Regions from separate parts of the Homo sapiens genome. Here region 1 is reported to be linked to region 2. The links are microRNA targets in miRTarBase. Many come from high-throughput screens and were not tested one by one. Region 2 holds a microRNA gene; the other region holds the end of a gene's coding sequence.
Evidence for each region. Region 2 holds the annotated microRNA hsa-miR-34a-5p (UGGCAGUGUCUUAGCUGGUUGU, at 1,957-1,978, shown strand). A microRNA usually pairs through its seed, bases 2 to 8, with sites in the 3' UTR of a target mRNA and lowers its output. Matches are read on the target gene's strand: a 7mer-m8 pairs with bases 2 to 8, a 7mer-A1 pairs with bases 2 to 7 and ends in A, and an 8mer does both.

Region 1: the mRNA of CD70 is a reported target of hsa-miR-34a-5p. The part of its 3' UTR that is shown has no 7-base or 8-base seed match.

The regions. Positions count from the first base shown.
Region 1 is chr19:6,583,456-6,586,455 of GRCh38, forward strand. It overlaps CD70 (CD70 molecule), which reads right to left. Exons shown (of 3, transcript NM_001252.5): 3 at 2,384-2,950. The coding sequence ends at 2,565. Among named protein-coding and RNA genes, the nearest start is that of CD70, 6.2 kb to the right of the region's middle. RefSeq lists an enhancer at 2,258-3,000.
Region 2 is chr1:9,149,810-9,153,712 of GRCh38, reverse strand. It overlaps MIR34A (microRNA 34a), which reads left to right and starts at 1,936; the gene lies at 1,936-2,045. MIR34AHG (MIR34A host gene) reads left to right here. Exons shown (of 2, transcript NR_132742.1): 2 at 1,878-3,903. RefSeq lists a silencer at 1,891-2,127.

The DNA of each region.
Region 1 (3,000 bases), not on the chromosome of region 2:
CCAGTTCCAAAATCCAAAAAGCCCTGGAAATCAAGTTGTTTTGGTGAATTGTTTGGCAGCAATCTCTGACCTGAACTAACTTTTTGTTAATTGTAGTCTTTTTTTTTTTTTTTTTTTTTTTTAAAGACAGTCTCACTCTGCCACCCAGGCTGGAGTGCAGTGGCACTATCTCAGCTCACTGCAATCTCCACCTCCTGAGTTCAAGAGAGTCTCCTGTCTCAGCCTCCCTAGTAGCATGGATTAGAGGTGCCCATCACCACACCCAGCTAATTTTTAAATGTTTAGTAGAGATGAGGTTTCACCATGTTAGCCAGATTGGTAACTGTGGTCTTGATTTTTTTTTTTTTTTTTTTTGAGATGGAGTTTCGCTCTTGTCACCCAGGCTGGAGTGCAATGACATGATCTTGGCTCACTGCAACCTCCACCTCCGGGGTTTAAGTGACCCTCCTGCCTCACCCTCCTGAGTAGCTGGGTTTACAGGTGCCGGCCACCATGCCTGGCTAATTTTTGTGTTTTTAGTAGAGACGGGGTTTTACCACGTCGGCCAGGCTGGTCTCAAACTCCTGACCTCAGGCGATCCGCCCACCTCGGCCTCCCAAAGTGCTGGGACTACAGGCATGAGCCACCGCGCCTGGCCTGTAGTCTTGATTTTTATCCCACTTAGTGTGAATGTTAACACTTCTCATTGTAAAAAAAAAAAAAAAAGATGTGGTGTTTGATTACAAAATGCTGTCCCGACCTCACTGAGGTGATGCATAAAAGATGGTATAAGCGCTAGGCGCGGTGGCTCACAACTGTAGTCCCAGCACTTTGGGAGGCCGAGGCGGGTGGATCACAAGGTCAAGAGATCGAGACCATCCTGGCCAACATGGTGAAGCCCGTCTCTACTAATAATAGAAAAATTAGCCGGACGTGGTGGCGGATTTCTGTAGTCCCAGACTTGGGAGGCTGAGGCAGAAGAATTGCTTGAACCTGGGAGGGTGGAGGTTGCAGTGAGCTGAGATTATGCCACTGCACTCCAGCCTGGACAACAGGGCGAGACTCCATCTCAAAAAAAAAGATGGTATAATCCTGTACACCATCTTTAAATACTGGTAAATTCTGAGTTCCAAAATGTATTTGAGGTCCAGGCAGTGGCTCATGCCTGTAATCCCAGCACTTGGGGAGACCGAGGCGGGAAGATCGGCATTTCGGGAGATTGGAGTTTGAGACCAGCTGGGGCAATGTAATGAGACCTCATCTCAAAAAAAAAAAAAAAAAAATAGCCGGGTGTGGTGGCCTGTGCTGGCGGTCCTAGCTATTTGGGAGGCTGAGGTGGGAGGATCGCTTGAGCCCAGGAGTTTGAGGCCGCAGTGAGACAGGATCATGCCACCGCACTGCAGCCTGGGCGACAGATCAAGACCCTGTATTTTCAGTAGAGGTGAGGTTTCGCCATGTTGGCCAGGCTTGTCTTGAACTCCTGACCTCAAGTGATCTTTTATTATTATTATTTAAGTTCTGGGGTACATGTGCAGGATGTGTAGTTCCATTACATAGTTAAATGTGTGCCATGGTGGTTTGCGACACCCCTCACCAGGCTGCAGTGCAATGACGCGATCTTGGCTCCCTGAAACTTCCGCCTCCCAGGTTCAAGAGATTCTCCTGCCTCAGCCTCCTGAGTAGCTGGGATTACAGGCGCCCTGGACCACGCTTGGCTAATTTTTGTATTTTTAGTAGACGGAGTTTTACATGTTGGCCAGGCTGGTCTCGAACTCCTGATTTCAAGTGATCCACCCACCCTGGCCTCCCAACTCATTAGGTATTTTGCATTGTCTGCTTTGAGAGACAGTCACCCAAAGTGATCTTTGTGTTTCCTCTCTTGTCAAATAGATGCACCAAGGAGAAAACAGAACTTTTTTTTTTTTTTTTTGACAAGGAATCTCACTCTTGCTCAGGCTGGAGTGCAGTGGCATGATCACGGCTCACTGCAGCCTTTGACCTCCTGGGCTCTACCCAATCTCCCACTTCAGCCTTTGGAGTAGCTTGGACTAGCACACCACTACATCTGGTTAATTTTTGTATTTTTTGTAGAGATGGGGGTCTCACTATGTTGCCCAGGCTGGTCTTGAACTCCTAGGCTCAAGCGATCTGCCTTCCTCAGCCTCCCAAAGTGCTGGGATTACAGGCATGAGCCACTGTGCCCAGCCCACTTCCTCTATTCTTCAAACATCCCTAACCAAGAACATTTTTTTTTTCCTGAGACAGAGTCTTGCTCTGTTGCCCAGGTTGGAGTGCAGTGGCGCAATCTCGGCTCACTGCAACCTCCACCTCCTCGGTTCAAGCGATTCTCCTGCCTCAGTCGGCCGAGTAGCTGGGATTACAGATGCACGCCACGAAGCCCAGCTGATTTTTGTATTTTTTAATAGGAAAATGAAAGAAAAAGCTCAATGCCTTCTCTTGTCCTGCCACCACTACCCCCCACCACACTCCCACCCCAACCCCGGGTGGCCCCTGTGTGTACACTTTTTCTCTTGAACTTAAATAAAATAAAATAAAATTTAAAAAACCCTAATCAGCAGCAGTGGTCAGGGGCGCACCCACTGCACTCCAAAGAAGGTCTCATCAGTGTTTCGGGAAGGCAAAAGTGTCCCAGTGAGGTTGGTGCAGAGTGTGTCCCCTCGGGCCAGGGGCGTCAGGCGCTGGGAGGCAATGGTACAACCTTGGTGGAAGCTGAGACGCAGCAGGCTGATGCTACGGGAGGCGGGAGAGCAGATTCCCACGGCCAGGGTGGTGGGGTGGTGCCTGGAGGCCGTCGTGGAGGAGCAGATGGCCAGCGTCACCTGGATGTGTACCATGTAGATGCCATCACGATGGATACGTAGCTGCCCCTTGTCCAGCTCTGGTCCATGCAGGAAGGAGCGGCCCAGTGCTGGGCCCCCCTGCCAGTATAGCCTGGGGTCCTGCTGAGGTCCTGGGGGCACAGGGTTAGAGGGATGAGAGGATGGAGGTTTAGGGAAACTG
Region 2 (3,903 bases):
GTGCACTGGTGTGATCTGCAACCTCTGCCTCCCAGGTTCAAGCAACTCTCCTGCCTCAGCCTCCCAGGTACCTGGAACTACAGGCACATGCCACCATGCCTAGCTAATTTTTGTATTTTTTTTTTTTTTTTGGTAGTAGAGATGGCGTTTCACCATGTTGACCAGGCTGATCTCGAACTCCTGATCTCAAGTGATCCACCCACCTCAGCCTCCCAAAGTACTGGGATTACAGGTGTGAGCCACCACGCCCGGCCTAAGAGCATTTTTCCCACACTAAAAGATAACACAGTCCAGCTGGCTTGCTTTTTAACCAGAGCATTACAGGGTCACCTGTTTGGAGGAGGAGGACTGAGGTCAGAGCAGGCTCCTGTCAACTCCAACGGGACATTTCACAGTGGCCACAACAGGCTGACCTCTGTGTCCTGTGTCCTGCTGACTGTGTGTGGAGGCCTCAGAGGGGCTCTTTCCCCCTTGCACAGAGAGAGACAGCACTGGCTCATGAGCCTGCTTTTTTCTGCACTACCTTACCTGGAACTCAAGTTTCTGGGACTTCCCATGCTGGGGTAGAGGTGACTTTGATCCTCCTGAAAACAGTCCTTCATGCCCCCACACCCACATGGAAGAGGAACTGTTCCGTGGTGGTCCGTATCCAAAGTCACTAGATCTTGGCCTGGCATAGTGGTTCATGCCTATAACCCCAGTATTTTGGGAGGCCGAGGCGGAAGGATCACTTGAGCCCAGGAGTTTGAGACCATCCTGGGCAACATGGCAAGAACCCATCTCTATAAAAACAACAACAACAAAACAACAAGAAGTCAGTAGATCTTAAAGCACTAGATCTTAAACCCTGTGATGGGCAATTTCCTTGTCAATTTAGCGAGGCTGTGATACCCATGATTCAACCAAACGCTTGCCTGGGTGCTACTGTGAGGTGCGTTGTACATGTGGTCAGCACTGATGATCACTGGCTGTAAGTCAAAGGTTCTCCTCTGCGAGGTGGGTGGGCCTCATGCAATCGGTTGAAAGGCCTCAAGAGCAGAACCGAGGTTTCCCTGAAGAAGAAGAAATCCTGCCTGGGGACTGCAGTGTCAGCTCCTCCGGGGAGCTTCCGGCCTGCTGGCCTGCCCTCTGGATTTCAGACTTGCCTAGCCAGCCCCCACAATCACGTAAGCCGATTCCTTGAAATAAACTTAATCTATATCTCCTTCTGGTTCTGATTCTCTGGCAGAACTCTGATCCTCTCCCTAAACGGTGCCCGGGACGGGGGAGGAGTTGGCGCTACTTCATTGCTTCCCTTTCACGCAGACATGCTGACTTTTCAACCACTGTCCTTTTCGAATTTTTTCTCTTCCAGGGAAGTGCTGACTCTTTTTCTCCTTGTCAATTAGTCCTTTTGGAATCTGTTACTGGTCTCAGCCTTCTCCTCCATCCTCTCTCTTTCATTATTTTTATTTTCATTTTGTAGAGACAGTTGCTGAAGGTGGTGGTCTGGCTATGTTAACCAGGCTGGTTTTGAACTTCTCGCCTCAAGTGATCCTCCTGTCTTGGCCTCCAAAATTGCTGGGATTACAGGTGTGAGCCATCACCCAATTTTTATTTTTAGAGACGGGGTCTCACCCTGTCACCCAGACTGGCGCAATCACAGCTCCCTGCAGCCTCAACCCCTGGGCTCAAGCGATCCTCCTGCCCTGGCCTCTCCAGTAGCTAGGACTACAGGCACGCATGTCACCATGCCTGGCTAATTTTTAAAATTTTTTTGTAGAGATGGAGTCTTGCTAGTTGCCTGGGCTGGTCTTGAACTCCTGGCCTGAAGCGATCCTCCCACCTCGGCCTCCTGCATCCTTTCTTTCCTCCCCACATTTCCTTCTTATCAACAGGTGCTGGGGAGAGGCAGGACAGGCCTGTCCCCCGAGTCCCCTCCGGATGCCGTGGACCGGCCAGCTGTGAGTGTTTCTTTGGCAGTGTCTTAGCTGGTTGTTGTGAGCAATAGTAAGGAAGCAATCAGCAAGTATACTGCCCTAGAAGTGCTGCACGTTGTGGGGCCCAAGAGGGAAGATGAAGCGAGAGATGCCCAGACCAGTGGGAGACGCCAGGACTTCGGAAGCTCTTCTGCGCCACGGTGGGTGGTGAGGGCGGCTGGGAAAGTGAGCTCCAGGGCCCCAGGAGCAGCCTGCTCGTGGGTGCGGAAGGAAAAAGGCACAGGGGCTTGGTGTGGGCGGCTTTTGGCTGGGAGAAGTTTGCACGTAGGGAGAATAGTAGCCAGTGTTTGCAGAGCACTTACTATGCAGGAAGGCCTGTCCTAAGTATTGTAAGTGTATTACATCATGTACAAGTGTCTGTGATTAACCCCGTCTTGCAGAGAAGGAAACAAAAGTACAAACAGAAAATGTAACTAAGCATGCAATTAATAAAAAGGGACCAGGTTTTGAACGCGAGCAATCTGGCTCAAGAATCTGCGCCCAACCACCGGCTCCTGTTCTTAGAGATGAACGTGGAGTCCTGGAGACTGCTCAACATTGTGACTTGACTGTGAGCGTACGCGCTCCCTGTCCCCAGGAGACAGATTTCCAGTGCAATCATAGAAAGTGCCTGTGTGGGCTTCGGGAGATGTGTCTGCCTTGGGGAGAATTTTCCTTTTCAGCTAGAGCCAGGCCCAGGATGTTGACGTCAGTGAGACGCTGGTGACGTTCTCTGCTCCAGTGGCTGATGAGAAAAGTTCCTCCAAGCCAGCTCAGTTGAGAAGAATTAAGTTCTCTGGGTCCCACTGGCTTCACCTACAGATGCCAACTTTGAGGCCAGTGAACTGTGAGGCCAGCTGGGCTGATTGCCATGGCAACAGGAATTGGACCAAAGTCACCGGAGGATGGAGAGGGAAGACACAGTGGTGGCTTCCCCAGGTCTTGGACCACAAGGCACAGCCGTGGCCTCCAGGAACCCTGAGATAACCCGTTAGTGGGTCCTGCACTCCAACAGAGCTCATGCAATCAGCCTCTGGTCCTCACCCTCCTCCCATTGGTGTCGTTGTGCTCTCTAACATTGACATTGAGCAGTGAGTGCTCCAGATCTTGTTCCACTGATTTTTTCCACTGTTCTCCAGTCTAGCACTTTCTGAAATTCATCCAAGCCTAAGAGGTGACGCCAAACGTAAGTGTCTTACACCTCGGACCCCATGGACTAAGACAAGCCTCTGGGGTCCATGTGGCACCAAGGATGGGGCCTTCTAGTACCTTTCACACAGGCCAGGGACAGCACCTGCTGCGACCCCCACCCCCAGCCTCTGCTGCTTCTCCCGTTGCCCTTCCAGCCACTGCCCTGGGCACCTCCCCTGCTCCCGCCTCCCTGCCTGGGCCCATCTTTCTTTGCACCTCACCAATTGCGGGGCTTCCTAGTGCTGGAGGGGAAGGGAGCCTGCTTCCATTCTCACCACTCTGAAAGAAGACCCTGCAGAGAGGTTTTCTGGAATTTGGAGCCTAACCTTGGCCTTGACACAGTCCAGATGAGAAGGCCGTCCCCCAGTTAAGCCAGCCCTCCCTCCCTCTCAATGCTGGAGAGGAAACCAGGCAGCTGGTTGCTTCAGCAAACCCCCTCCCTATGGGAATTGTCCTTTTCTTCCTCAAATAGACTGGAGTGCAGAGGACTTGCTTCAGAGAGAGCCCCTTTGTAACGCACATTGCACGGGCCGTGCCCCATGCCCACTCTGCCACAAACTCCCCTCAGCTGCCCAGCCCCGTGGAGCCAGGCGTGGGCTGAAGTGGGGCCAATGAAATGCCTGGAATGCCAGCCGCAGTGACAGGCCAGCACTCAGATGCCTCTCGGGAGTTCTGACCGAAGCAGCACTGAGGACTGCTTCAGAGCAGAAGTCTACGCCATTTTCCCCAGTTCTAGGCAGAAGTAAAGAATGTC